Regions from separate parts of the Homo sapiens genome. Here all the other regions are linked to region 3. Evidence: fine-mapped expression QTL. A gene starts in region 3. Each other region holds a variant in brackets. All regions are shown on one strand. Distances are from middle to middle. Region 1 overlaps PODXL2 (podocalyxin like 2). Region 2 overlaps LINC02034 (long intergenic non-protein coding RNA 2034). Region 3 holds the start of PODXL2 (podocalyxin like 2).

The links. PIP is the estimated chance that this variant, and not a neighbour inherited with it, causes the effect. A credible set is the group of variants that fine-mapping cannot tell apart.
Region 1: its variant is the best candidate, but not a certain one, in a credible set for the expression of PODXL2 in whole blood (INTERVAL, PIP 0.75).
Region 2: its variant is the best candidate, but not a certain one, in a credible set for the expression of PODXL2 in whole blood (TOPMed, PIP 0.60).

What each region holds. Positions count from the first base shown.
Region 1 is chr3:127,657,205-127,667,087 of GRCh38, forward strand. It overlaps PODXL2 (podocalyxin like 2), which reads left to right. Exons shown (of 8, transcript NM_015720.4): 3 at 3,174-3,955; 4 at 5,033-5,107. Among named protein-coding and RNA genes, the nearest start is that of ABTB1, 11 kb to the right of the region's middle. The variant T/C (reference allele first, on the strand shown) is at 5,442.
Region 2 is chr3:127,554,304-127,564,186 of GRCh38, forward strand. LINC02034 (long intergenic non-protein coding RNA 2034) reads left to right here. Exons shown (of 7, transcript XR_007096067.1): 7 at 598-2,574. Among named protein-coding and RNA genes, the nearest start is that of MIR6825, 16 kb to the right of the region's middle. The variant T/C (reference allele first, on the strand shown) is at 3,667.
Region 3 is chr3:127,625,654-127,635,536 of GRCh38, forward strand. It overlaps PODXL2 (podocalyxin like 2), which reads left to right and starts at 3,532. Exons shown (of 8, transcript NM_015720.4): 1 at 3,532-3,636. The coding sequence starts at 3,567. It overlaps LOC107986126 (a long non-coding RNA gene), which reads right to left and starts at 3,310. Exons shown (of 2, transcript XR_001740892.2): 1 at 3,153-3,310. RefSeq lists silencers at 3,465-3,534, 3,645-3,774 and an enhancer at 4,175-4,234.

The DNA.
Region 1 (9,883 bases), 32 kb after region 3:
GAGATGTTGATGCTCTCTCTGACTTTTGGAAAGTCAGCACCAAATTGAGTAGAGAGATCGTTTTAGTCAGCTTGCCCTCCCAGGACTTCCCCACCCCATGGGATTCTGCTGATGGGTGTGTCACCATCCACCATATTCCTGCCATATCCTAGGCTGCATTGAATCCATCAGCTATTTTAAGTGCGTCCTGAAGGTTTCCAATACTCCTTTCCTCTGAACTTCACCATCTCTATTAATGGCTTGGCTACTCCCGCAGCTTCTCCCTGTTGGCCATCTAGCTCACGCATCTGATTACTTCTCTTTCAGAGTCATCTCTTGAGTCTGCTCTTTTCTCATCATCTCCAGTGTCATCACCGCCATGCATCTCTCCCGAATCACTGCAGCAACTCCCTGACTCTTCTTTGCACTTTCATTCATCTACTCCTTCACCTAATCTTGTAAATTGCTGTCAGATTAATCTTCCAATAATGAAATATTATGCTTGTAAGTGATTTCATATATTGTATTTCCTAGGCACCCATCTGACTCCTATTCTGTTACCCAGTATTCCTATCAAGTAATCATCCAGCCCATTTCAGTTATGTTTTCATGCATTATATCTTAATTCTGGATAGATCTGGCTATTATAAAGTTCTTACTTACATTGAGGTAAAATATATTTATTCTTCTATATACTTGTTTTGTGGGTGTGATTTCCTCCTGAATCTTTCTGAAGATATTAACAAGAAACTTTTCTGAATTCTCTTTTGTTAACTAGACTAACTTTTCCTAGAGGTCAGTTGCTTTATGGTCCCACCCTTATGCTTCTTCATCAGGCTGGCTTTCTTAAAATGTCTTGTGAATCTTGGTTGTTCTTTCTTTCTTATTTATCTGTAGTGACTTCACTACAGAGTGTGTGCAGTAGGTGGAAGAGGGGGAGGATCTGCTACTCAAAAAGTCTAATTAACAGAAGTGGACTGGATAGAATATTCTAATTATTGATTTAAATACTATAGTGGGCTTTCAGTTGTCACTAGGATTGTTCAGCTTCTAAGTCATACTTTTTATTACAGGGAATCAATTTTTCTTTTTGAAATAATCGTTCTCAGAGCTCTCTCTGTGTGTTCTAATTTGAACCAATTGCTTTCCAGGCTTACTGCACAGTTTCCATCCTGAGATATATTTTCATTGCATTCCTCTCATGTTTCTTGATTTCCCATGTCTTTTTTTTTTTTTTTTTTTTTGGTTTCTTAAATAACTTACTTAAATCTCTTGGAATCTGTGGATAGTAACACTTTTAAATCTTTGCATGTATGAGAATGTCTTTATTTTGCAATCACACTTGAGTAGTCATTTATTTGGATATAACATTTCAGGTTCAAAATAAACATCCCTCAGATTTTTCAGTGCATTTTTAAATTCTTCCTCTAGGCTACTGATATTAATTAGAAGCTTCATGATAATTTGGTAATCTGTTTCTTGTTCCTTTACAGATAACCTGTTCTTTCTCTGAGAGCTGTTAAGATTTTCTCTTGCTCCTTATAATTCTAAAATCACATGAGAATGAGGCTAGGTGTAAGTCTTTTATCATTCACCTTGATGATACAAGCTTTCATTGCAAAGATTCATGTTGCCAGCTCTGAAACTTTTTTTCTTTGTTTCTCTCCATTATTCTCCATTTTGTTGGTTCTATCTTTCCAGAAATCATATTAGCTAGGTATTAGATCTCCTACATTGGTTGTCTGTATCTTTTAACTCTTATCTGTTGTCTTCTCACTTTTGCCCTAGAGGCTTTTCCTTGACTTTTTTTTTTCCCAGCCATTAAAAATTTGAATTTTCAATCCGTTGAATTTTTAAATATCAACTATTGACTTTCAATATCCAAGAAATTTTTCTTTTTTAAAGATTACTTGATTTTCTGAGTGGCGTCTTATTTTAGGGATGCAATATTTTGTAATCTTTCTGAGGATACTAATTAGACTTTTAAAAATTACCTTCTGTTCTCTGAATTTTCTGTGTTCTACATCCTTGCTCCCACAGTTGTGCCTCTTCCTAACTCTGGGTAAGAAAGCCTGCCTCCTCCCCTGCTATTTTTTCCTATGTTTATTTTGGCTGAGGGGTTATCTGTTCCTATAATCTCATCTGCTTTCCATGTTCCCAGAAATTTCTCTAAAATGTTTTTATCTTCATTTTGACAGTTAAAATTGTTTTTGTCATTTGATAAAAGTTTTGGAGGAGGAGGTAAATGAATACCTTTAGTTCGCTATCTTAAAGTGTTCCCACCACTCTCCTTTCTAAAGAGTATTTTAAAACTACAATATTTATTATTTTGAAACAAAATGGCAGCCAATAAAAGTTGCTTCCTAGATACAGCTTCTGATATTTTGAATGAATTTCCAAAAAACTTGTTGTATAACTTTCATGCATAGTTATTTGGAAGAGGCCTAGGGTTCATTGAAAAGCCAGAAAACAATCTGATCTCCAGGAAGTCTCCTAACTTCTCTGCTTCAAAATGTAATTCCCAAGAATGGCAGGGAGAATAAAAACCCCTCTCCCATTGCCAACAGTGACCCTGAACATTCTGGGAGGCCCTGGAAAACTCTGGGCTCAGCCCCTGGCCTCTCTCTGGCTCTCCCTACATCTTTTTCATTTCCTGTCAGGGCCTAAATTACAGAAAAAGAGCACAGTTGAGGAACAATGGTCATAATTGAGGGGTCTCACTTCCTCCAGTGATGAGAGGGCTCTCAGACCTCCTTCGGGGACTCCACCAAGAAGACTCTTATAACGACTCACTAGAAAAGGAGTAGGGGGACCCTTCCTAGTGGGTTGTTGTGGGATCTTCTTGGTGAAATCCCCAGATGAGGACAAGCAAGCACATTACAAACACAGTGGAGAATATATACCTCAAACTACTCATGGCTCTTTTGGAGGAATGCAATATACAAAACTTTCTACATTCCTGTGTTCATTGAGTTTTGGTGATAAATTTGTATTATTTTATCATCATAAAGGAAACAGTGACTAGCCTTGTCCCTGTGTCCTCCCACAGTCTGCTCCCCTGGCCTCTCCATCATGACCTGATGACCCCTGCCCTGTCAGTGTATTGTGGTTCTTTTATGCCATCTGCCCAGTAAATACTGAGTAAAGCAATGAATGATGAAACAAGTGAATGAACTTTTCATCTCTGTCCTTAGATTATGTTTTTCCTGACTTAACTGAGAAGGCAGGTTCCATTGAAGACACCAGCCAGGCTCAAGAGCTGCCAAACCTCCCCTCTCCCTTGCCCAAGATGAATCTGGTTGAGCCTCCCTGGCATATGCCTCCCAGAGAGGAGGAAGAAGAGGAAGAGGAAGAGGAGGAGAGGGAGAAGGAAGAGGTAGAGAAACAAGAGGAGGAGGAAGAGGAGGAGCTGCTCCCTGTGAATGGATCCCAAGAAGAAGCCAAGCCTCAGGTCCGTGACTTTTCTCTCACCAGCAGCAGCCAGACCCCAGGGGCCACCAAAAGCAGGCATGAAGACTCCGGGGACCAGGCCTCATCAGGTGTGGAGGTGGAGAGCAGCATGGGGCCCAGCTTGCTGCTGCCTTCAGTCACCCCAACTACAGTGACTCCGGGGGACCAGGACTCCACCAGCCAAGAGGCAGAGGCCACAGTGCTGCCAGCTGCAGGGCTTGGGGTAGAGTTCGAGGCTCCTCAGGAAGCAAGCGAGGAAGCCACTGCAGGAGCAGCTGGTTTGTCTGGCCAGCACGAGGAGGTGCCGGCCTTGCCTTCATTCCCTCAAACCACAGCTCCCAGTGGGGCCGAGCACCCAGATGAAGATCCCCTTGGCTCTAGAACCTCAGCCTCTTCCCCACTGGCCCCTGGAGACATGGAACTGACACCTTCCTCTGCTACCTTGGGACAAGAAGATCTCAACCAGCAGCTCCTAGAAGGGCAGGCAGCTGAAGCTCAATCCAGGATACCCTGGGATTCTACGCAGGTAAAGTGAGGGGCATGCGGGCCACCACCCTGTACCTTCTTCACAGAGCCTGGCCATCCCCAGGGCTAGTGTGGCATGGGGGCAGGATCTGCCAGGTTGAGGAGGGAGGCCCTTTCCACAGCACGTAGAACCCCATGGAACTTGTGGGGATGCAAACCTCAGGGCCAACAATGGGTGTTCTCCCCACACTTCTGTGCAAAGGCCTTTGGAGAAACTTGGTGGCCTGGCCTGGGTTTCATTTGTTCATGTGTTACCATTGCCACCCTTAGACATCTTTTGTTTTTTTTTTTTCCCGAGATGGAGTCTCACTCTGTCGCCCAGGCTGGAGTGAAGTGGGCATGATCTCGGTTCACTGCAACCTCCACCGCCCAGGTTCAAGCAATTCTCATACCTCAGCCCCCTGAGTAGCTGGGATTACAGGCATGTGCCACCATGCCTGGCTAATTTTTGTATTTTTAGTGGAGACAGGGTTTCACCATGTTGGCCAGGCTGGTCGGGAACTCCTGACTTCAAGTGATCCACCCGCTATGGCCTCCTGAAGTGCTGGGATTACAGGCATTAGCTACCGCACCCAGCCCACACTTAGACTTCTGCACTGATTCTACCAGCAGCTAGAGCTAGTGGCTGACCTGTGCTTTCCCCATCCCATCTCACCACCCTCCTCCTCCCCACCGACACCCATGTGCATAGCAGGCACAAGTCAGTGTTCACACCCACTGACACCGCAAGGAAAAGAAAGGAGCCCCAGAATATTAACAATAAACTTGCCCTTGAAAGCCAGCATGTGGGGCAAGCTCTCTGCAGCCTGGCCCCTTTGATATAGTCCCCTACTTCCTGGGAATAATGCCTGGCCTCCTCCTCTCACTCAATACATTCCCTGCTTGGTCCCCAAAGACATTCGAGTTTGTACTCCTTGGCATGGTGCCTCACAGAGGCTGTCAGCAGCCCCCTCGCTGTAATACGCCTCCACTGGCCTCCACCTTCCAGCTTCCCAAAAGGCCTCCGACCGGGGCTCTCTCCCCTGTCCCTTTCCTATGCCTTCGTAACTGTCGCCCTTCTTTCTGTCTCCTCGCACAGGTGATCTGCAAGGACTGGAGCAATCTGGCTGGGAAAAACTACATCATTCTGAACATGACAGAGAACATAGACTGTGTGAGTGCCCAGCCAGGCTCCGAACCGCAGGGAAAGGCTGCAGGCAGTGGACAGGGTGGGGCAGAGGGCAGGCTGGGGGGACAAGCAGTGCGTGGGAGAAGGCTTAGTCCTTCAGTTGGTGGCCCAGGGATATACCAGCAGCCATCAACATTACACACAGAGAGCTTTCGTATTTTAAAATGTCCAAAGGCTCTTTGGTTCTTGCTTCCCTCTCTTTTTAATTTAAATGAATACTTTGTTCATGTGTGCACCATCTTACCTCTCCCGTGATATTGAAACCTTTCTGTCTTTTTTAGAGTTGTTTTCTTCCTGTATAGGTTGCTTTTCTCCGTTT[T/C]GGGTCTCAGCCTTTTCATATATATACATGCTCTCCACACATGTCTGGTGGAGTTTGTTCATAGCTCTCTCTATCGAAAAAGTGGCTGGAAGCTTTGAGCATAGTGCTAGGGTTGTCAGCTATGGCTTCTCATGAGAGTGGTCTGGCTGGGCCGTATCACTTAGAAATTTGCAATGGCAGCATTGTTAGGTCCTTCCTCCTGAGGTGATTAGAGTCTTTGAAAAGGGAACTTCTGTTCTGTTCGAAGTATAACAAGTTGGTTGTCAGTGTTCTGGGAGCTGGGGTGGAGAGAGAGGGCTGGGTGTTTCAGTATTATAAATATGTATCCATAAATATCAATATTCATGTACTGTCTCTTCCTGTTTGCAGAGTGACCTTCTCCCTCCCCAAAACACACACTTGTGTCTGATGCTCTCTAGGTCAGAGACCCTCTGTTTTATCTTTTTTAAAGAATAAACTTCCAGTCTTCTGCCAGGGAGAAGGGACATTTCTTGGCTGTGCAGCACTGCGGGAAGAACTAGGGACCCAGCCGTTTCTTAAGCAAACTTTCGACCAGCTCATATTTTTAGTAGCATTTTCATCCCCTCTTCCAAAGGTAACCAGGGCCCCTATTCCGGGGCATCTGGGGAGTGTCAATCAGTATGCATCTGATTGCTTCTCAGCTTTCCTCATTTTGGCTTAGGGTTTGGCTCTTTAGAGTTTGCTAAATTAGGAAATTCTAACTCACCATCTGCTTCCAGTGTCTAGATTTTGTTGCTCTTGTCTCCTCTTCTGTTTTGCTTTGTCTCTGGTTTTAGGCCTTAAATTCTTTACTCTTGTTAGTGGGCCTGGGCAAGACTGAAGGGACATGCATGCGTTGAATCCAAAAGTCCCCAGCAAGGTTGGTTTCCCCCACCATCACTATACTGATGGATCTTCACCTAAGTGATGTGTGTTTTCATCCATTGCAGTTATTATTTTTACTGATGCTCAATACCTCATCTTTGGCCAGGGAAAGCCTCTTTGAGTTGGCCTCTGAGTCCTTTTGACCAATCTATTAAGTGTCTGATTGCTTCCTTGCTTTCTGGCATAATAAGACATTCCAGGCTCACCTTCCTCCCCCAGACATGGAGCCCTCATTCCCTTCATTGGGAAATGGTACATGAAGACCACAGATGGGTACTTGGGACCCTTGAACTTTTGGTGTGCATACTTGAACAATACAGCCTAAAGTTCGTATCTTTTTGCCAATCAATACATAGATATTAAGATGCTTTTATTCTGTTTTCCCTGTTTTTGTCTTCTGTGTTATTCTAATATGTGACCTCCACTCAATTAGTCATCATTATTTTTTATGGTAGATTTTTTTTATTGTAGTAAAAAACATAAAATTTTCCATTTCACCCTTTGTAAATATAAGTTCAGTTGTGTTAAGTATATGCACATTGTTGTGGAACAGAGCCCCAGAACTTTTTCATTTTCAAAGCTGAAACTCTGTACCCATTAAATGACTACCTGTTCCCCAGTCCCGGCACCCACCATTCTCCTTGCACCCACCATTCTCCTTTTGGTTTCTATGAATGGGACTACTCTGGATACCTAATAGAAGTGGAATTAGACAACATTTGTCATTTTTACATCTGGTTCATTTCACTCAGCATAATGTCCTCAGGGTTCATCCATTTGGTAGCATGTGGCAGAAATTTCTTTTTTTTTTTTTAAGGCTGAAAAATATTCCATTGTATGTATATACCACATGTTATTTATCCATGCAGCTGTCCATGGACACTTGCATTGCTTCCATCTTTTGGCTATTGTGAATAGTGCTGCTGGGAATGTGCTGTGCAAATATATCTTCAAGACTCTGTTTTTAATTATTTTGGGTATATACCCAGAAGTGGGGTTGCTGGATCATATGGTAATTCTATTTTAAATTTTTTTGAGGAATCTCCATACTGTTTTTCGCTATGAGTATACCATTTTACATTTTCGCCAGCACTAGGGTTCCAGTGTTTCCACATCCTCATAAACACTTGTTCTTTTCTGTTTTTTTAAACAGTGGCCATCCTGAGAGAAGTGAGGTATTTGGTTGGTGCAAAAGTAATTGCGGTTTTTGCCATTGAAAGTAATGACAAAACCCGCAATTACCTTTGCACCAACCTAAATGGTCTCATTGTGGTTTTGATTTGCATTTTCCCTGATGATTGGTGATGTTGAGCATTAGTCATTATTATTAACAGTCAATGCTTACTATATTTTATCAACATACTTATTAGTTTCTTTGCCAGATTCACCACTTGTTAGAATTTTTTCAAACCATTTGAGAAAAAGTTGAAGACATTATTTCCTTTTGCCCCTACCCCCAAATACATTAGTTTGTGTTTCCTCAGAACAAGAATATTCTTTTAGATAACCACAATGGAATGGTCAAAATCAGGAATTAGCACTGCTACAAAACTATTATCTGATTACCTACCTTATTTCAATTTCACCATGGTTCCAATAATGTCCTTTATAGCCTTCTTCCCTCCCATGCCGGGATATAATCCATGGTCATGCATCACATTATTTGTCTTGTCTCTTTAGTCTCCTTTAATCTGGAATAGTTCCTCGGCCTTTCTTTGCATTTAATGACCTTGACTTATTTGAAAAATGAAAGGAATAAATGTGCATAAAAACTGATGGGCTATACAGAGACTACATATTCAGAAAAAGACAGGGAGAAAAGTGCTGGCAGTCTCTTGTGGAAAGTTTTACACGATGGAACTACAGGAGTTCCAGGAGTTCAGCCCTCAAGATCTAGAGAAAGTGATGCAGGCTCAGTGGCTTCTATTTTACCTAGATGTCACAGGTAACATAGAAGAAACTGGAAAGAAGTCTAAGAAGGAAACATGAGAGGAGGAAGAAAGATAAAACAGGAAATCCAGAGGTGGTGTTTTTGAGTTCTAGAAGGCAAAAGAAATCCTTACTGTAGAGATGCAAGGATCTGATCCTTTGTCTAGCACAACAGAGAGAAGTGCTAGAGGATAAGGACAAGGAGGAGAAATATGTGGATCATCCTTTAGTGAAAATCCTGAAATAGAGCTTCCATGCAAAGGGCTGGATCATCAAGATCTGGATAAAGAAGCAGCGTTGACACAGTGATGAGGCGCCAGTCCTTTGCCTGAGGCTGCAGAGTTTCTCAGTGCATGCCACACACGTGCTTACAAGATGTTCCAGGCTGCATGGGACTTTCCTTGCCCCAGCCCCCAATTTAGCCATTTCTGCAAGGAGTCCTGCTTCCTTTTAATGAGGAAAGGTATTTAGAAACTAAGATCTGGGCCCCAGGTGTGCTCATGGCTACTGGGGTGTCACTGCTTCTAGGCCCTTCTAGAAGAACTGAGCAATATGGATCTTTATTTCTGTCTCTCTCTAGGGCATAGATATACATATATCATGTATAATGCATGTACACATATTAAAAGTACAAATTCAGTATTTCCAATTCTAATCCATCACCACTGGATGATGTCCTCCTGTGCTTACTGCTACAAACTTTAGATCTGTAGTCCATCTGGAATTAGTTTTGGTAAATGATGTCAGGTATGAATCAAGGAACTTTTTTTGTTTTCCATGGGATATCCAGTTGTCCCAGCACCTGTGATTGAATAAGTACTTTACTTATTCACAGTAAGGTAGGGTGTCAGGACCATTGCCCATGTTTTTAAATAGGGAAACTGAGGCTCAGAGAGGTACTTCTTTTTTTTTTTTTTTGCTGACATCACAGAGAGCTGACAAATGGCAGAAGCAAGATTTGAACCAATGTATTTATTTATTTTTGTCACCCAGGCTGGAGTACAGTGGCACAATGTCAGCTTACTGCAGCCTCAACTGCCCAGGCTCACGTGATCCTCCCACCTCAGCCTCCCAAGGAGCTGGGACCACAGATGTGCACCACCATACTTGGTTAATTTTTTTGCATTTTTTGTAGAGACGGAGTTTGCCGTGTTGTCTGTGCAGGAGTTGGAACTCCTGGGCCCAAGTGATCCACCTCCCTTGGCCTCCCAAATGTTGGGATTACATGAACCAGTGCACCTGGCCAGAACCCAGATTTATTTGATTCCAAAGTCAGGGCTTTTCCCCCTTGCCACGGACATTCAGTTTTCCTGTCTACATAATAAGTGGTATGAAATCTGCAGTCATCAGATCCTCCCACACTGACATTGTGGGTCTCTGGGCTTAAGCCAGGCAGACATATGTACCCAGGAAAACATGGGGTGTGCAAACACAGCAGAGCACAGAGCCACAGCACAGAGGGCAGGCACTTCATGTGGCAGGAGAGTGCTTGTTTTGTAACCAGGGGTCTGTGGGTCATGGTGCATGGACCCTTGCTCTGGCAGGGGCGGGCATGCACTCCTTCTCCCCCCATACTCAATCAGTGAATAAAGTAAGAACCATCACAGAACTAGGGGTTTCCATCTGCT
Region 2 (9,883 bases), 71 kb before region 3:
TGTCATGTGTTTTTGCATAAAGGGAATGCATGTGTGCTTTCTCTTCAACCTTAGTCTCTAAAACTACTCAGCTCTGCCCCTCCTCTGCATAGTAGCCAGGGACATCCGGGAGTGTTTCTGAGCCTGCATGGTCTTTCTTCCTCTGGGCACAACCATGGGAGAGGTTGCAGGCCTCACTCTGGTCCCTGAACCAAGCCAACTCTCCTCTGCCCTGGAACCTCCTGTAGCCAGAGTCAGAAACCCGTCCTAAATTGGCTTCACAGCACAGGAGGATTTTGAGTCATTGTGAAGTGCAGGACTCTGGGGCTAGGTGGATCCAGGTGTTGAAAGAAGTCCGTTCAGAATTGATATCTGTCTCCTGGTTCTGGTCCCCAGATTGTGCCAGCTGACATCACATGTCCTTCCTGTGGCCATGGGACTGTGGTGCTTGCCAGCTAGCCTGTGTCGCAGGCCACCCACCTGTCCCCACCCTACCCAGATCTCCAGCTCCTCTCTGGAGCCACACCCTGCTCCCTGTGCCCCTGCCCCATCTGCTCATCTGCAGCCCACAGTTAAGAGGTCAGCAGACAGTGATGCTCATGTTTGCTTCATGCCTAGGATAACTGCAGTCTCAGAGAAGACCCCCAGAAACCCAAAATGCTTCCAGCCACAGAGGAGGAGAGCAGCTGGCAGCCAGAAGCATCCATTCCAAGTGAGAGACATCGAAGGGAACAAGGCTTAACCGCCTTGTCTTTGAACAGCACTAAATGATTCAGCAAAAGGGATGAGAGGAAACCTTTGGCCATGTCACGGGTTCACAGCCATCTGTATATGTTCCTATAGTCCTGCTTTGTACCTCCAGCCTAAATGATGGGGAGGTCGTTTGAAGATGAGACTGACCCTTCACTACATGTGCTGCTTCCAACCCCAGATTCCATCAGGCTGCACTTCTGAGATTCAGTGAACTCCCACTCATCCTTCAAAACCCTATCTCAATGTCGCTGCCATAGCAAAGCCTTCCCTGGCCCCCTCGGGTAGGGAGGGTCTCTCTGCCCACTGGCAGGCCAAGAAGGCCAAGCTCTGCCCTCTGAGAATCCATCAGTGTCCCAAGCTGACTTTCCCTAGCCTCGTATCCCTTCATTCCATGAAAGGGGAACTTAGGGTGGAGTGGAAATTTTGATCATCTAAAGGAACAATAATTGCTTTCATTCATTCATTTAAACAATATGTATTGAGCACCTACCAAGGACCAGGCCTTGTGCTAAGTGCCCCCACAGAGGTCACAATAGTCATATACTACAAACAAATACAGCATCACAAAGGTTGGCGCATGAAGAGACAGCAGCTAAGGGCATGGTCCTGGAGCCAGAATGCCTGGATTTGAATCACAGCTCTACTACTTCCCAGCAGCTTGTTGAGCTTAGCCAAGTCTCTAAGCCCCTCTGAGCCTCAGCTTTATCACCTGTAAAATAGGGATAAAAGCAGCATCTGCCCTATTCATCTGTTCACAGGAATACATGGCCTATGGAGGGAAAGTACCCAGGCTCCTGAGTGGGCCCTCCTGGCCCACGGCAGAAGCCGTGTGCATGTCTGTTCAACAGATACCTTTGGTGGCCTGTATGTACCAGGCGCTTCTATTCTCTGCTGGTCAAGGAAGGCTCACGGTGGAATAGGATTTAGCCCCGGGAGAGACAGCAGGGGCATTCTAAAGACATCGACTAGCTGGCATCCTGTGCCAGGCATCCCAACCTTTTGCGCATCGCGGCTCACCTGGAAAAGACGTGGGGGTGAGGAAGGAGGTGCCACCTGCATGAGGCATGGCAGAAAAGCATGACATCACCTTTATAGTGCAAAGCTTGACAGGAAGAATAAGATACAAAGTACTTAAAGAAGATAATCGATATTGGATGTGTATTAAATTTCCAAGGAAAATATTTTTAAATATGTAAATTAATCTTGAGTTGGCTTCTACAAGCATAACTTTTTTTTTTCTTTTTTTTTATTTTGATACAGAGTCTCGTTCTATCACCCAGGCTGGAGTGCAGTGGTGTGATCTCGGCTTACTGCAACCTCCGCCTCCCGGGTTCAAGTGATTCTCGTGCCTCAGCCTTTTGAATAACTGGGATTAAAGGCGCACAACACCATGCCTGGATAACCTTTGTATTTTTAGTAGAGGCGGAGTTTCACCATATTGGCCAGGCTGGTCTCAAACTTCCAACCTAACCGGGACCCACCCTGATCTGCCTGCCTTGGCCTCCCAAAGTGCTGGGATTACAGGTGTGAGCCACCGCAACCAGCCTTACAAGCATAAATTTTTTTATACCAATGTACCAGGTTTCATGCTTGAGCTGACTAAGCACAGTCCGGGATCAGGAATGTTTTTCAGGGGTCAGTCCTTTGGGTTCCTGACAGTCACCACTGATGAGAAGCGGCCGGGCAGGCAGTAGTGGATGAGGACCACCTGTGGCACTACAGAGAGCCCTCTGGTGGCAGGTGGGATGTCGACTGGGCACAGCTGCTGTGACTGAATCTGAAAGGTGACAGTGGTGCCAAAGTTACCTTCCAATAAAATTTCAACTGTTGCACGTTTTTGAATGGTTGTGAAAAAATGATTTTGTAACTATAAAAATGTATAACTACAAAGAATCTGTAAGCTTCAATGGCTGGCAGGTTAGGGTTGGAAACCTGGGAGTTTGAGGGCTCCAGGGCCTGGGGTGCTGGGGCGTAGATGGGGAGGGAGGGGAGGAGCACATGGGGGCCATGCCAGAGGGGAGCCGAGGGAGGGGGCTGAGCCACCGAATAGATCTGTGTGTTTCAAAGGTCTCTGTGACTGAGTGTGCAAATGGAATAGGATGGGGCAGAATAGAAATGACAGTGTTGGCCTAGAGGAGAGGGAATGGCAGCGTGGACCAGGCTGGTGGAGGTGGGAAGGAACAGGTAGATCGAAGCTACATTTTGGAAGTAAAATGCACAGGACTTGGTGACAGAATGGATATGGGGATGAGAGAGTAGGGGGTGTCAGGAGAATTTCCAAGGCCTGGCTCCTGGAACTGGGCAGGCAGGCATCCCCTTTGGAGTGGTAGCAGAGCCGCTTTCCTTACCCAGAAGCCGGCTGGAGTGGGGGTGAGGGGTGTCACAGGTCAACGCACCTCCCAGTTTTCTGGGGACAGTCCTGGTTTATACCTATCATCCCTGAATATGTACCTATTGCCCCTTCCACTCTCAAAAATGTCCCTGTTTTCCTCTGAATGATAAATAAAAATAAATGTAAATAAATTTTAAAATAAATGAATGCATGGGGAGAAGAGAATGCTCTTCCTAACAGTGGAAGCTAACTGGTAAATGTGGAAGGGGTGGAGTATGTGATCTGAAAGTCATTATTTGGCCGCCACTTGGGGAACAATTGTTTCAGGCAAGAATCAAAGGATACTAAAACTGGCAAGTAAGGGCCAGGCACAGTGGCTCATGCCTGTAATCCAAGCACTTTGAGAGGCCAAGGCGGGTGGATCACTTGAGGTCAGGAGTTCGAGACCAGCCTGGCCAACATGGTGAAACCCCATCTCTACTACAGTAGAAAAATTAGCCAGGCATGGTGGCACATGCCTGTAATTCCAGTTATTCGGGAGGCTGAGACAAGAGAATTGCTTGAACCCAGGAGGCGGAGGTTGCAGTGATGAGCTGAGATCG[T/C]GTCACTGTACTCTAGCCTGGACGACAGAGCAAGACTCCATCTCAATTTAAAAAAAAAAAAACTGGCAAATGGAAGGTGGAGGGAGAAGAGAGGATGCACCTGGGCTCAAAGCACTGCCTCCCCACAGAGGCATGTTACTCGCAAAGGGGAAGAGCACATTTCCCACATTTACAGGGAAGAAGGCTCCTTCCATAATCAAGTGATAAGACGAACTGCCACTGTGGACCCCAATGGGGTGCAGTGAGGAGAACGCAACATCCCTTCTGTGCCATCCCTCTGAAAACACAAAACCTGATCTAATCATTAGGAAGCAGCAGACAAACCCAAATTGAGGGGCATTCTATTTTTTTAAAAATGCTGGAGGAGGCCGGGCGTGGTGACTCATGCCTGTAATCCCAGCACTTTGGGAGGCCGAGGCTGGTGGATCACGAGGTCAGAAGATCGAGACCATCCTGGCCAACTTGGTGAAACCCAGTCTCTACCAAAAATACAAAAATTAGCTGGGCGTGGTGGCGAGTGCCTATAATCCCAGCTACTCGAGAGGCTGAGGCAGGAGAATCGCTTGAACCAGGGAGTCAGAGGTTGCAGTGAACCGAGATTGTACCACTGCACTCCAGCCTGGGCAACAGAGGAAGACTCCATCTCAAAAAAACAAAAAATGCTGGAGGATAACATTCAAAGGCATCCAATTGATGAATGTCAAGGAAAGACTGAACAATGTTCCTAACTAAAGGAGATTCAGGAGATGGGATAACTCAGGGCACCGTGTGGTCCTGAACTGGATCCTTTTGTTCGAAGGATATTCTACAATTGGCAAAACCTCAGTGGGGTCTGGGGATCAGATGCTGGTGTCCTCTCAGTGCTACTTTCCTGATTTGGATGGCTGTGTTGCAGAGAATGGTCTGTTAGAGGGAAAAACACACTAAAGGCTTCAGGGTGTTGGGCATCATGTCAGCAACTCTCAGATGGTCCAGGAGATAAAAGTTTTTTGTAGGCCAGGCGCAGTGGCTCACCCCTGTAATCCCAGCACTTTGGGAGGCCAGGGTGGGTGGATCACCTGAGGTCAGGAGTTCAAGACGAGCCTGACAAATATGGTGAAACTCCGTCTCCACTAAAAAAATACAAAAATTAGCCAGGCATGGTGGCAGGTGCCTGTAATCCCAGCTACTACTTGGGAGGCTGAGACAGGAGCATTGCTTAAACCCAGGAGGTGGAGGTTGCAGTGAGCCGAGATCATGCTGCTGCACTCCAGCCTGGGCAACAGGGCAAGACTCTGTCTCAAAAAAAAAAAAGTTATTTGTAATATCTTTGTGCCTTTTCTGTACATCTGAAATTATTTTTAAAATATATCTTAAATGTTACCCCAAAAAGGTGTGCTGGTGATTTGAACAATAAATTATATGGCCATCCAAACCACAAATACTACAACACAGCCATCACACCCCTTTGACCAGACTCTGCTGGGGACTGGAAGGGAATGGTCCCCAGAGTCCCTTTATATGATACTTGACATGGGAGATCAGGAAGAGAACACTCCCCTTTCCTACCCCAGGCCCCTTACCTATGCCCACCTGCCCCAGAGCTCTAGCACTTCCTGAGGATGCACTATACCCTCAGGCATTGCCAGCTGGAACATCTAATCAGGCCAGGCACGTTCAGGATGGAATGCTCTGACCAGCCAGCCCTGGTCAGAGCATTGGCCCTTCTAGCCATCAGTGTGGCCTATCTCAAGCTGCCCCGGGTTGGCATTCCTGGTCCTGGATCAGAATCTGTCTTCCCTGGGAGCCATCTCAGTGGCCTCAGCCCTGAGCCCCAGCCACACACCCCCAGCTATCGGGACTGTGCTGCTTGATTTCACTGTCAAACATCAGATATAGCCTCCCATCCTTCAGCATTCCCCACCCTACAGCACCCACCAATTCATTCATCCATCCATTCCTTTAACAAAATTGCTACTGAGCACTCAATAAGACCAGTCACTATCCTAGGCACTGGGGAGAGAGCAGTAAACAAAGCATACCAAAATCCCTGCCTTCATGGAACTTACACAATAAGGGAGATCAACAAGAAACTGTGTTAACAAACAAGTTAGCACAGTTAATTTGTGAACAGGAGTCTCAGGGGTAAAACAACAGCAGGACTCTATAGTTATCATTCCTGTGCACTTACTGTTTCCTCTGAACTTACAGTACCCTAGCACTTACTGTTCCACCATCACTTACTGTTCCCTGCACTTCCTGTGTCCCCAGACATCCTGTGCTTACACACCTCTGTTCCCCTGTACTTCCTGTTCCCTTGTACTTACTATTTCCTCTGCACTTCCTGTTGCCCCTACACTTCCTGTTACCTCTGCATTTACTGTTCTCCCGCACTTGCTATTCACCTTTTGATTACTGTCCCCTCACTTACTGCTCCCCTTGCACTTACTCTTCCCGTGCACTTACTGTGCCTCCTTGCACTTGCTATTTGCCCCTCATTTACCGTTCCCCTGCTGATACTGTTTCCTGCACTTACTATTAATCCTGCACTTCCTGTTCCCCTACACTTCCTGTCCCCCTGCACTTCCTAATCCCCCTACAATTACTGTTACCCCCAACTTACTCTTCCCCCATACTTACTGTTCACCTGCCCTTTCTGTGCCCCTACACTGCTGTTTCCCTGCTCTTCCTATTTCCCTGCATTTACTATTCCCCTGCTCTCCTTGTTCCCCTTGCCCTTCCTGTTCCCACTGTACTTCCTGTTTCTCTTACACTTATTATTCCCCTGCACTTACTGTTCCCCTGCACTTACTGTTCCATGGTGATATATGTTCCCTCTGTACTTACTATACTCTCGGCTGCCCACTTCTTTCCCCAGATACCCACAATGAAGCCCCCTCACTTTCTTCATATCTTAACTCCGAAGTCACTTTTTCCTAAGTCTTTCCTGCACAGTTTATTCACACTTTCTGCTTCTTCTCCCCACCCCAACAATTCCCCTTCCCCTTCTCTGCTTGTTTTTCTTTCTAGCACTCACTGCTGTATAAACCTCTGCAGATTCTATGTGTGTCTGCTGGATTATCTACCTCCCACAATAGAATATCAGCCCCTTCAGGGTGGGGATTTTTGTCTGGTTTCTTCACTGCTGTTTCCTCTGTGTGGATAGATGAACAACAAAAGGGGCTGCTTTCTAGTGTGGTTGTTCAGCTGTGTTGCTCTGGGAAGGTGATGCTGAGCAGAGAAGGAGGTAAAGAAAGAGAATCTGGCCGGGCGCTGTGGCTCGTGCCTGTAGTCCCAGCACTTTGGGAGGCCGAGGCAGGCGGGTCACAAGGTCAGGAGAGCGAGACCATCCTGGCTAACACGGTGAAACCCCGTCTCTACTAAAAATACAAAAAAATTAGCCGGGCGAGGTGGCGGGTGCCTGTAGTCCCAGCTAGCTACTCGGGAGGCTGAGGCAGGAGAATGGCGTGAACCTGGGAGGCAGAGCTTGCAGCGAGCCAAGATTGTGCCACTGCACTCCAGCCTAGGCGACAGAGTGAGACTCTGTCAAAAAAAAAAAGAAGAAGGAGAATCTGCAGAAGGAGTGAGAATTCAGGTTCTGTGATGTCACCTCACCGTTCCCAATGCAATGCTGATTTTCCCCTTAGGTGTGCCTGCTCTGTGGAGCCACCACTGTCTATTACAGTTTTAGGAACCCAGCTGCTCCCCAGGCTGGCTGCAGCAGGCTCTGGAGTGGCAGATCAGACCTAACATAGCCATCACACTCCGCGCTGTCTCACAGCCAGGTGGAGCAGCCCCATATTCCCCACCCCCTGCTGCCTGTTCCATGGACTCACTGCCAGCTTGGGCCTTTCCATAGAACAAGTCAGCCAGTGACCACTTTGGACCCTCTTTCTTCACATAATATGCTCTATCGCCAAGTCTTCCCCATCCTGCAAGTCTTCCCCATCTTGGACAGATTGCTGACTTATTCTGGAAGAGAACTTCATCTGGGTCCCTGCCCTCTCAGCTGGCAGTGAGCAGAATCATTCCTAGCAGCCGAGGCCTGTGAATGTGATTCTAGCATGAGGACACACATAGATGTTGGAGAAATAAGCCAAGTTCTCGTCTCTTTGGAGAACCCACAGTTGTCAAGAGCCTTCTGAGCAACAGCTATTTTATAGATCGGCTAATACCCGACAGGAAGAGATATTATCGTCCCTATGTTACAGAAGAGGAAACTGAGACCCAGAGGGTAAAATTACTCACCCAAGGTCACTCTTAGAAGTAGGGTCTAACTTGCAACCCAAGCATCCGACTTATTTCCCTCACACGGCTGCCTCCCTCTGCATAGTGCTGACCTTCCCAGCCGGTCTGTTCAGATCTGGCAGTGTCCCTCTGGCCTGAAAATCACAGTTTCCCAAAATGGGATGGAATCAGAGAGGTTGGATCAATGACGCACTGTTAGCAACCCCCATGGGCCAAATGGGGCCAGTTGGAATGGCTCTGAGATAGGCCCAGAATGTGAGGAGTGCATCCCAGCAAGATGGTTCCCAGAGCTCGAGTTGCCCCCTGAGGATCCATGCAGCAGGGGCAGTCGACAGAACAAGGGCCTGTTTCCACCGGCTGAATTTGAAATCACTTTGTCTCAGCATCCCAAGAAGTAAACCCGGCAAGGAGGAACAGCAGCCCTGAAGCAACTCGCCCGTGGACTGCCCGTCGTGCTCCCCAGCTCTGTAGGTCTAAATGGTGGGTCTGTCCCTTGGCAACCCTAAAACTTTTTGGTCTCAGGACCCCTTTACACTCTTAAAAATTGAGGCCCTCAAAGAGCTTTTGTCAGGGAGAGTTTTGTCGATCAACGTTTACCATACTCATTAGAATGGAGAGCTTCGAAAGCACAAGAAGCCATGAGCATGCATCTCACTGGCTGTCAGAGCTGTGATGTCATCACATGCATGCCTGGAAAATTCCACCATGCACTGTGACAGAATGAGTGAGAAAGGCAGATCATAGCTTATTGTGAAAATCGTTTTGACCTCATAAACCCCATCAAAGAGTTTCAGAAATCCGTAGCAGCCAGGACCCAAGTTTGAGAACTCCTGGTCTATGTCACGTCCTTGTTTCAAAAGCTCCAGGGATTGCTGTGACCACTTGGAAGAAAACTTTGGCAGCATCGAATGAAGTTGAAGATGTGTATGCACATGACCCCAGAAAATTTATTCCTCAAGATACACCCTAGGGAGGGCTTCAGAAAGTCAGACACCAGATGATGCATGGGGATGTTGTTTGCTGTCACAGCTTGCAAACAACCTGAATTGTCAGGAGAACTGACAAATAAATGATGCTGTATTTGTATAATGGAATACTATGCAGTAGTTGCAAGTATCAACATAGATGAGTCACCAAAACAAAATGAAATGAAACATCAAGTTATGGAAGAAAGTGATCAGTATGAACTTATTTGATTAATTTAAATGCACACAAGACAATGCCACATACTGTCACAGATACATACTGCATGGATAAACACAAAATTTGAGAGAGTGGGAGAGTAGTTGCCTACTGTAGGGGTCAGAGGAGGGAAATAAGAAGTAAGGATTACACATGATCGGAGTGAATTGTATCCATGATGTCTTAATTTATGAGGTAACATTTGAAAGACCTATCTGAATGACTATGGGAAACTATGACTGGCTGCTGGTGGTACAACACCACTACCACCAGCACCACCAGCACCACCATCATCACCACCACCATCCTACCAGCACCACCACCACCATCCTACCAGCACCACCACCACCATCCTACCAGCACCACCACCACCAGCACCACCACCAGCACCACCATCACCACCACCAGCACCACCATCACCACCACCAGCACCACCATCACCACCACCAGCACCACCATCAACACCACCAGCACCACCACCAGCACCTCCATCAACACCACCATCATCATCAATATCACCACCACCATCATCACTACCACTACCACCAATACCACCAACAACAACATTACTACCAATACCACCACCACCACCACCATCACCACCACCATCACTACCACTACCACCACCACCAAAACCACCAGCACCAGCACCACCACCATCCCCACCACCATCACTACCACTACCACCACCACCAAACCCACCAGCAGCACCACCAGCAGCACCATCATCACCACCACCACTGGCACCACCATCAGCACCACCATCACCACCAGCATGACCATCATCAGCACCAGCACCAGTTCATTA
Region 3 (9,883 bases):
AGTTGTGCAAATTATCACACTTTTAAAACATTTTCATCACTCCCTTCCCCCAAAAAACATACCCATTAGCAGTTACTCCTCTTCCTTCCCCACCAGCCCTAGGCAACCACTAATCTGCTTTCTATTGCTAAAGATTTACCTATTCTGGACATTTCATAAAAATTGAATCATATAATATGTAGTCTTTTGTGATGGGCTTCTTTCACTTAGAATAATGTTTTCAAGGTTCATCCACGTTGTAGCATGTGTCAGTACTTTCTTTGTATTGCTGACCAACATGCCATTGTATGGGTATGCTACATTTTATTTATGCATTCATCAGTTGATGAGAATTTGGGTTGTTTCCACCTTTTGATTATTATGACTAATGCTGCTATGAACATTCCTGTAATGTATTTGACTAGACATATGTTTTCTATGCTCTTAGGTATGTATTAGGAGTGGAATTATGAAGTCATATGGTAACTCTATGCTTAATCTTTTGAGAAACTGCCTATGTCCAAAGCAGCTGCACCATTTTACATTCCCATCAGCAGTGTACGAGGAGGGTTCTTTCTCCATATCCTATATAACACGTGGTCTCTCTTTTTAATTCTAGCCACCCACCTTAGTGAGACGCAAAGTGGTTTCCTTTTTTTTGAGACAGAGTCTCGCTTTGTCACCCAGGCTGGAGTGCAGTGGTGTGATCTCAGCTCACTGCAACCTCCACCCCCTGGGTTCAAGCAATTCTCATGCCTCAGCCTCCTGTGTAGCTGGGATTACAGTCATGCACCACCATGCCAGAGTAATTTTTGTATTTTTAGTAGAGACAGGGTTTTGCCATGTTAGCAAGGCTGGTATCCAACTCCTGACCTCAAGCTATCCACCCAGCCCGGCCTCCTAAAGTGCTGGGATTACAGGCGTGAACCACCGTACCCAGCCTGAGAAGTGGTTTCTTATTGTGGTTTTGATTTGCATTTATCTGATGGTTAATGAGGCTGAGCATGTTTTCATGTGCTTATTGACATTTGGAGGAATGTATATTCAGATCTTTGTCCATTTTAAAACATTGAGTTGTCTTTATTACTGACTTGTAAAAATTCTTTGTATATTCTAGATACATGATTTCCAAATGTTTCTTCCCATTCTGAGGATTGCCTTCACTTAAATTTTTGTTTCTTTTTTTGAGACAGAGTCTCACTCTGTCACCCAGGCTGAAGTGCAGTGGCACAATCATAGCTCACTGCAGCCTTGAACTCCTGTGCTCAAGCAATCCTCCCACCTCAGCTTCCTATGTAGCTAGGATTACAGGTGTGTGCCACCATGCCTGGCTAATTTTAAAATTTTTCATAGAGATGGCATCTTGCTTTGTTGCCCAGGTTGATCTTGAACTCTTGGGCTCAAGTGATCCTCCCACCTCAGCCTCCCAAGTAGGTAGGACTACAGACATGCACCACTACACCTGGCTAATTGATTTACTTAGAGATGGGGGTCTCACCATATTGCCAAAGCTGGTCTCAAACCCCTAGCCTCAAGTGATCCATCCTCCTACCTCAGTCTCCCCCAAGTAGCTGGGATTCCAGGCACATGCCACCACCCCTGGCAGCTTTAGAGTTTTCTTCATTTGGAGCTTACATATCTGGTTTGGTTTATTCCAGTTTTTAATAATTGTTGCTGTGATTGCGATCTTTTCTCCTACTACATTTTCTAAGTGGTTATTGAGGATACACAGAAAAGCTATTGATTTCTGTACGTTATCTTTTATTCAGCAATCTTGCTGAACTCATTGGTTTTCAATTATTTTGCCAACTGATGATCTTGCATTTTCTAGATAAACCTGCAAATAATGAGTTTTCCCCCAATACTTTCATCCCATTTCTTCTATCAGGCCTTGTTGCAGTGTCTCTTATAGAATATTCAATCATTGTGGTGGTAGTGAGGATTATTTTGTTCCATTCACTTAAAAGAGAATGTTTCTAATGTTTCATCATTAAGTATGGTTTCACCATTAAGTATGATAATAAAGGTTTCTGGGAGATACCCTTAATGGAATTGAGGACGTTTCCTTCCATTTCTTGTTTGCTTCTAAGATCTTTGTTTCTTGTAACAGAAAAACAAAACAAAACACAACAAAAAACCAAAGGGATGCTCCTTTCATCCTCAGAGGAGGAAAGAAGAGGGAAGCTGGGTCTAGACACACCCTGGATTTCTCTTTTCCAAGCCCAGCTGACAGCCACTTTTCTAGTACCCCTAACACCCACCAAATAAAAGGTGCTACATTTTGCTCATGTTCTTTCTTTTGTCTGGAACCCATTTCTTCCCTATGCTCCTCCACCCCAACTCCTATTTCTCCTAAGTATTAATATTTAGTCTGGAAGAGTCCCGTGAGATTATCTCCAATGTCTGATGCTATACCCCTGCATAGGGGGGTGGGGATATACTTTGAAAAAGCATATTCAAATAACGATTTGTTATTTTAAAGAAGTGTTTTCCTAATATGGTATATATAAAGTAACATTCCACAAAATTGTGGTTGCTGTATATTTAAGCTGCAGTACTTCTAAAAGGGTAGTCGGGGTTTTTCTCTCCCTAAAAGAGGCTGAGCTTCTTTCTAACTCAGGAACTCTATCAGTGAGCTTTTCCCTCTGCCTTGTAAGTTCTCTCCCAAACCCAATCTCCTACCTAATACCCACTCATCCTTCCAGATGCCAGCCAGCTTACCTTAAATGCTGTTTCTTCAGGAAGGCAAGCATAAGGTTCCCCTCTGTGCTGTCTCCTAGCCCCTTATACTCCTTAACAGACCGACTACCAATTGCAATCATAGGACCATATGTGTGTCCATTTTGTTTTTCAGTCTGTTTTCTCTACGAGCCTAAACTATGAGGACGAGGGATGTGCCTGTTTTATTTACCACTACAGTGCTTGGCATATTAAGGATCTTCAGTTGCCAAAAGGGAGCACATGTTAGAGAAGTCAGCACCTCTCTCATAATCTAAAACCCCCCAGTTAGCAAATGGGGCAAGTGGGGCCCAGAGGTGAGAAGAGATTTACTCAAGGTCTCGGAACCAATCTGATCCTGAGCCAGACTGCCTAGCTCTAAAGTCCAGTTCTTTGCTCTCAGGTTCTCCTTCAGGGCTCACCCAATCTAAGTACCCTGAGAAGTCTTTCCTTACCCCAGGCCTCTGTCCACCCTCACAGTCATTTCCACGCGTCGTCCTCGTCCCATCAGTCCCATCTGCCACAGCTGCCCACTCTGCTTCCCAGGGAACGGGTGACCGCGCGGGGAGAGAGCGGCATCCGGGCGCGAGGTGCGAGGCCCAGGTCTGCGGGCGGCCGGGCCAAGCCCCCGAGCCTCGGCGGTGCTGATTGGCCGGCCTGGCGGGGGGGACGGGCGGAGGGACGGCCGCCCGCGCGTCCGCTTCGTCTCCGCGGGGGCGCGCCCGCGGCACGCGGCCGGGCGGGGCCGGGCGTGAGTGACGGCCATGCGGACCAATGGGGCGGGCGCGCGCCGCCGCCGCCGCCCGCGCGGCCCCTGACGCGGGCCCGGGCGCCGCGCCGCTGCGGCTGCAGGCGGCGACGGCTACACCATGGGCCGGCTGCTGCGGGCCGCCCGGCTGCCGCCGCTGCTTTCGCCGCTGCTGCTTCTGCTGGTTGGGGGTGAGTGCGCTCCGGGCCCGAGCGCGGGAGGGCGGGCGGCGGCGTGGGCGCGGTGCTGGACAGCTCCCCGGGCCGCCAACAAAGGGGCCAGAGTGCGGCGCCGCCGGGAGCGCGCGTGTCCCGGCCGGGCCGCGGCGCCGCCCCGACACACGCGCACGAGGAGTGGGTGCGTGGGGGCCGCGGCGGGCGCCTGGCGTGCCGGGCGACCCCCGACAAAGGCGCGGCGGTGAAGCTGGGACACAGCACCGTGGCCCCCACGCCGCGGCTCTCAGGGGCAGGTGCGCAGGCTGCTGCCTCGCGGGCCGGGGGGGCGCGCACGTGTGGGTGTGCATGTGTGTGCGTGTGCTTGTGTGTGTGCGAGTGCATTGTGTGCCTGCGCACTCGGGGGAAGAGGCGTGTGTGACAGCCACGCGGGGAGGAGGCCGCATTGTGAAGGTCCCAGGGGCCGCCTGCGGAGTGTGGGGCGGGTACGCTGAGGCGCGGGTGGCTGTTTACGCGTGGCGTTGCCGGGAGGGAGTGTGAGTGTGTCACGGTGAATGGGTATTCTCTCCTGTTCTGGGCGACTCTATTAGGAGCTGACAAAAACGGGCGTACAGCCACGGAAGGCCCGTGACAGCACACGGCGGGAGGCTCCCACGCAGCTCACACACGAGGGAGGTGTGAGACTCAGATGTGTGGTTTCCATTCAGCAGCCACGCCGGGCGGCGGGCTGTGTGGGTGCGTGGCGGGCTGGGGGTGTGGCACAGGTGTGAAAGGGATGTGTCTGCCTGAGAGAGAAAGAGACGGGCCTCCTGATGGCTTCCAGCGCAGACGGGGATTTAGTGGAGGGGGTGTGTAGGGAGGTGGGCATGGGGTGTGACAGCCCATGAGGCAGGCGGCCACTATGGAAATGGCGGGGAGAAGGGCTGTCTGCAAAGGTGGGTCAAATAAGGTCATAGCTGAGCAGCTCCTGCACACACTGGCAGAGCAGAGGGAGTGTGTTACGGTGTATGTTAAGGTGTGACTGGTGCTGCTGGAGGAATACCCGGATGAGGAAGTGTGCATGTGTGCCTGTGCACACTCATCAGCCAGCTGTAACTTCACTTCTGATGCACACGTCAAAATAGCGTCCTAGTATGATGTGTGTATGTGCATGTAGGAGTGTGTATGTGCATGTAGGAGTGTGCACAGGACATTTCCCACGCAGCTGGCCCATGAAGACACAGGCACTTTGTGTCCAGATGTGTGTGAGTGAAAGAGAAACTAGTGAAGGGTCTCTATGGGAAGGGAGGAACAGTCTTTGCCTGAGGTGGGCCATGAACCTGGGACTCAGAGTGGCAGAATCCCAGGGTAAATGGCTGGGAGGGGAAAGTGGTCCCTCGCACATTCCTGTGCATGTCATGGGAAGGCTCAGTTCAGGGAGGGTACATTTTCTCCACAGTCAGTCTAGGGATGAAGAAAGGCCCTAGGTGGTGTGCACAGAAAAACATGTCCATCAGTGTTGGCTCAGACACTCACACAAACCCACCTGTATTCTTTCACGCCGTAAATCCTCTTTGGAAAAAGGCGACATTCAATAAATAAACATCAATTGATTGGTCTGCTATTTCTTTGTGTGACAGTCATAAACCAGAACTGGCCAGCAACGTCCTCATGGACCCAGGCCCAGCTGTAACTGCCCATGTGCTTATGTGACCAGCTGTGAGGACTGCAGGCAGCCTGCCTCCCGGCTCCTCTCTCCCGTGCATGCTCTTCATGACGCACTTCTTACCCCCTGCTTGGAGGGCATGTGCGTGTGTCTAGCAGTGTGTCTCTTTCTTACACACCTTTGTGTGGAAGCCCTTCAGGGACCTGTCAGCATTGTTTCTCAGGTGCTTACAGAGTGGAGGTAGCGTGACTGTGCTCAGCAGTTCCTGTTGTCGCTGACACTTAAGGGTGAGGAGCTGTGTGACAGATGCTGCAGGGCCCCTCCCATGTTGGTGTCTGCCAAGAGCTTAGGGAGACTGGACTTCAAAGACCCTGCTTAGGGGAGAGGTGGGGTGTAGCTGATGGTGGAAATCAGAAAGGAGTTTTGCACCGGGAGCAGATCACAGGGACTGATTTGAAAAGGTAAGATAAAACATGAGGATCGCTGGGGTCTTGTTTTTTTCACCTCCCCAAATGTCAGCCTGCTTCCTTTGCCTCCTTCTGTGTTTGTTTGGGTCAGATTTTCATTTCTTTGAGGCTGATCCCCTAATCCTTTTCATGTGCCATCTTTTTCTCTCTCCTCTGTTGGGTGTGATGATGTAACAGAAAATTATAGGTGCTAGAGGGAAAAAGGAAATCAATCACACGCAGAGTGTAATTCTGAAATTTTAAGTCAGGTGGGGTCTCAATTAAGGCAGATTAATTATTAAGTGCAAAACTAATTATACACAGAATGGCTATGTCTCAGCTACTATTTTGGTGTCATCTTATGGTGGGCAAGTTTGAAAATAAGTAACCTCTTGTAATTACTTAAATAAATACCCATTGCCAAGGCCTTTGAAAATATCAAGTTCTATGTAAAGACAAAACAGTCATTAGAGGGAAAAATAACTTTAAGAAAATGAAACTGTTTACTGGAAAAGGAATGAAAAACCGGGAAAATACCAGATTCCTTTTTCTTCAGTAGGGTTTTCAAAATCTTTGCCAATTCCTATTAGACCATTGGGAAGGGAAGACAAAGAAGGAAAGGGAGAGATGTTAGAGGAAGGTTATGGGTTCCTGGCTTGACAGGTGGGAGAGCTCAGAGAGGTGGGGGCTCACTGGAGCCATGGAAATGACAGGGAAGGGGCCTAGCAAACACACCAGACCACAGTACTGTGCACAGACAGCTGGACTGACTAGAAAGTGTTTTATCCCCCAGAGTGGGGAAGGAAACAGGCTCCTCTGGGCACAATGACCTGGAGAGGGCAGAGCAGTCTTCTTGAGTTCCAAGCCATTCCGAGGAGCCAGAGTAGGGTGTAGACGGCAGCAGCCTCCCCGCCTGCCATGCCACAGCCTCTCCCTGCCATGCCACAGTTCAGCTCCGAGAGAGAGTGCCAAGGTTTGAGAGACAACCCGTGTTTAATCCTTCAGTGGTTTTGTAGAGAGTGAATTTCAAAATTCTTAGGGAGAATCAGTTTACACTTTTCTAACAAGGCTGAAGTAATATCTTTCCCAGCATACCTGCTGGAGGTTGGAGCATGCAGATACAGATCTCCAGTTCATGGCCCTCTCAAAGGCAGGCTGCCCGGGTGCCCCGGGAACCTATACAATGTGTATTATTTAATTATTATAAACATTTTCCATCAGTTGACTTTTTTCTTCCTGGAATGCATGAATGAGTTTTTCCAGATTTGTTTCTTGTATTTTGGCTCCCTGCCAGCCCTGGGGATACTGCTTTTGCAAAGCAGTCTGCTACATCGGCTCATATCCCCTAAAGAACTTAGGGTTCCACTTCCCAAGAGTTTGTAATTTTCCTGAGGGCAAAGCCTGTCTCTTGTTCATCTGTCTCTTGTTGCACCTCCAGGAAGGGCCTAACACACTGTTTGGCACAGAATAGGAGCTCAGGAGTGACTGTATTTTTCTTTGTAATCGAGAGTCTAATAGAAATTTTACCTCTAATAAGAGCACAGCCCACCTGAAACCAAAGTTCAATTATAATTGGATCACATCTGATTGGCAGTACTACATGATTCTGATTCACTTTTCAAAAATTAGAAAATAACTATTAAATAAGTACAGTTTATAGATGAAACATTTCCAAACACAGGGGCCACATGCAAATGTAAATAAAGGGATTCTTGCTTGTGAAACATTGGGAATCACTTTACTAATTTGGTCTTTTTCAAGAGAAGAGATTCCTTCAATTGATTGGATTGGTTGTGGGGACCCTGGGCAGAGTGTTTGGAAAGGGGTATCTTCTAGTTTTTAGCTCTGGCTTCTTTCCCTGGCCCTTAAAGCACATGAAATATTTAAGCTGTTTTACATATTCTCTTCCTTCACGTATCCTTTGGAGGAAGGAAGGTACCCAGCCCCACAAGTAATAGCTTTCCATTCTTCTTCCTGGAGCATCCACAAGATGTTTTTGTGGGGGAGAAACCAGCTAATTTCAGCTCCTCTATTAACTAGCTGTTTGACCTTAATCCCACTAGGCCTCAGTTATTTCATTTGTAAAACAAGAGGGTTGGATTACAAATTTTGTGTGTGTGTGTGTGTGTGTGTGTGTGTGGGAGAAACCAGCTAATTTCAGCTCCTCTATTAACTAGCTGTTTGACCTTAATCCCACCAGGCCTCAGTTATTTCATTTGTAAAACAAGAGGGTTGGATTAGACTACTAATTATTTATTCAAACCTTTATTGTGTCCCCATCATGTGTAAAAGGTTGTGCTAGGCACTGGAATTACAGGGTGGAATTGAAACAAGGGACTCCTCATTTACAATGGAGGCTGTATGAAGGTCTCTTACAATTTGGTGAGAAAAGTGGCGTGACAGTAGTTTGTTGAGAAGGCTGTGATAGAGAGGAGTGGTGTCTCATCCAGACTTGGAGTGGCCACAGAAAGCTTCTCGGAAGCTGAGACTGCAGGCAGGAGTGAGAATTAGCAGGTGGGTGGTGGGACAGGACAGAGATGGGGAGATACGGATGTTCAAGCAGAAGAGCATATGCAAAGACCCAGAAGGCAAAAGAGGCGGCTGTGTTCTGGAAATTGCAGGTAGTCAGTTTGTCTGAAGCGTAGAGTATGATTGGGGAAGGTGGGTGCAGAGAGGGGAGGGGAGGTAATGGTCAGTTTATGAGAGCCTTCTCGCCTTTTCAAAGGATCTGACCTGTATGATAGAATGATAGAACCAGATTTGCATTTTAAAAAGACCTCTCGGCCTGTGCAGTGGCTCACGCCTGTAATCCCAGCACTCTCGGAGGCCAAGGTGGGCAGATCACCTGACGTCAGGAGTTTGAGACCAGCCTGGCCAACATGGCGACACCCCGTCTCTACTAAAAATACAAAATTAGCCGGTCATGGTGGCACATGCCTGTAATCCCTGCTACTCGGGAGGCTGAGGCAGGAGAATCGCTTGAACTCGGGAGGCGAAGGTTGCAGTGAGCTGAGATCACGCCATTGCACTCCAGCCTGGGCAACAAGAGAGAAACTCCATCTCAAAAAAAAAAAAGTTGACTGGGCACAGTGACTCACACCTGTAATCCCGGCACTTTGGGAGGTTGAGGCAGGCAGATCACCTGAGGTCAGGAATTGGAGACTAGCCTGGCCAACATGGTTAAACTCTATCTCTACTAAAAATAAAAAAAAAATTAGCTGGGCGTGGTGGCAGGTGCCTGTAATCCCAGCTACTCGGGAGGCTGAGGCAGGAGAATCGCTTGAACCTGAGAGGCGGAGGTTGCAGTGAGCCAAGAACGCGCCATTGCACTCCAGCCTGGGCGACAAGAGTGAAACTGTCTGAAAAAATAAATAAAAATAAAAAATAAATAAAAAGACCTCTCTGAGCTTTGTCACTCAAAGTGTGGTCCACAGACCAGCAGCATCAGTCACACCTACTGTGTCAGAAGACTCGGGTGACTCACACACATTTCAGTCTGAGAAGCGCTGATTAGAGGGCAGTGTTCGGGACAGATGAGTGCAGGGGGAATTGCTAGGGGTTCGTAAAAGAGCTCTCTTTTTCTTCCAGCGGTGAAGCACTATGAGGACTGTAATTCTAATGGAGGCGTCTCTCATGTCTACACATCTATGTTTCTGTATCGTCTCTGCTGTTTTGCTTTATCGTGAAGTGTGGGGCATTTCGGCCATGTGCCCCCCTGAGTGGCATGGTTGTCTACCCTAGAGAAAGGGAAACTGAACACATGTTCCTGAGATCCCGGTGTTGTTATTTCCTCCAGCCTCCTTTCTCCTTCACAGTGTACTGAGCACAGTTAGTACAGTGCCATGAGCAGTTCTGTTAGTAGCTACCTTTGAGATCTCTCTCCCTGCCCTACTAACCCTGTGGCTCAAACAGAGTTATATGGTCACTGTTACACTATTCCATAATGATTTGTTTTCTTGCTGGTCTCTGTAGTAGAAACTGACCCTTTTGGGGCAGGGACCCTATCTTTCTTATTTCTGTACCAACATAGCCTTGGATCATGCCTAGTCCAAATAAGCATTTAATAAAGGCTTTTTGGTTGAAGAATGAATGAATGGATGGATGAATGAATGGAATTTAACCATTCAAACACTACTCTGATCCAAAAGGAGAACTTGATTTATAATTTGTCTTA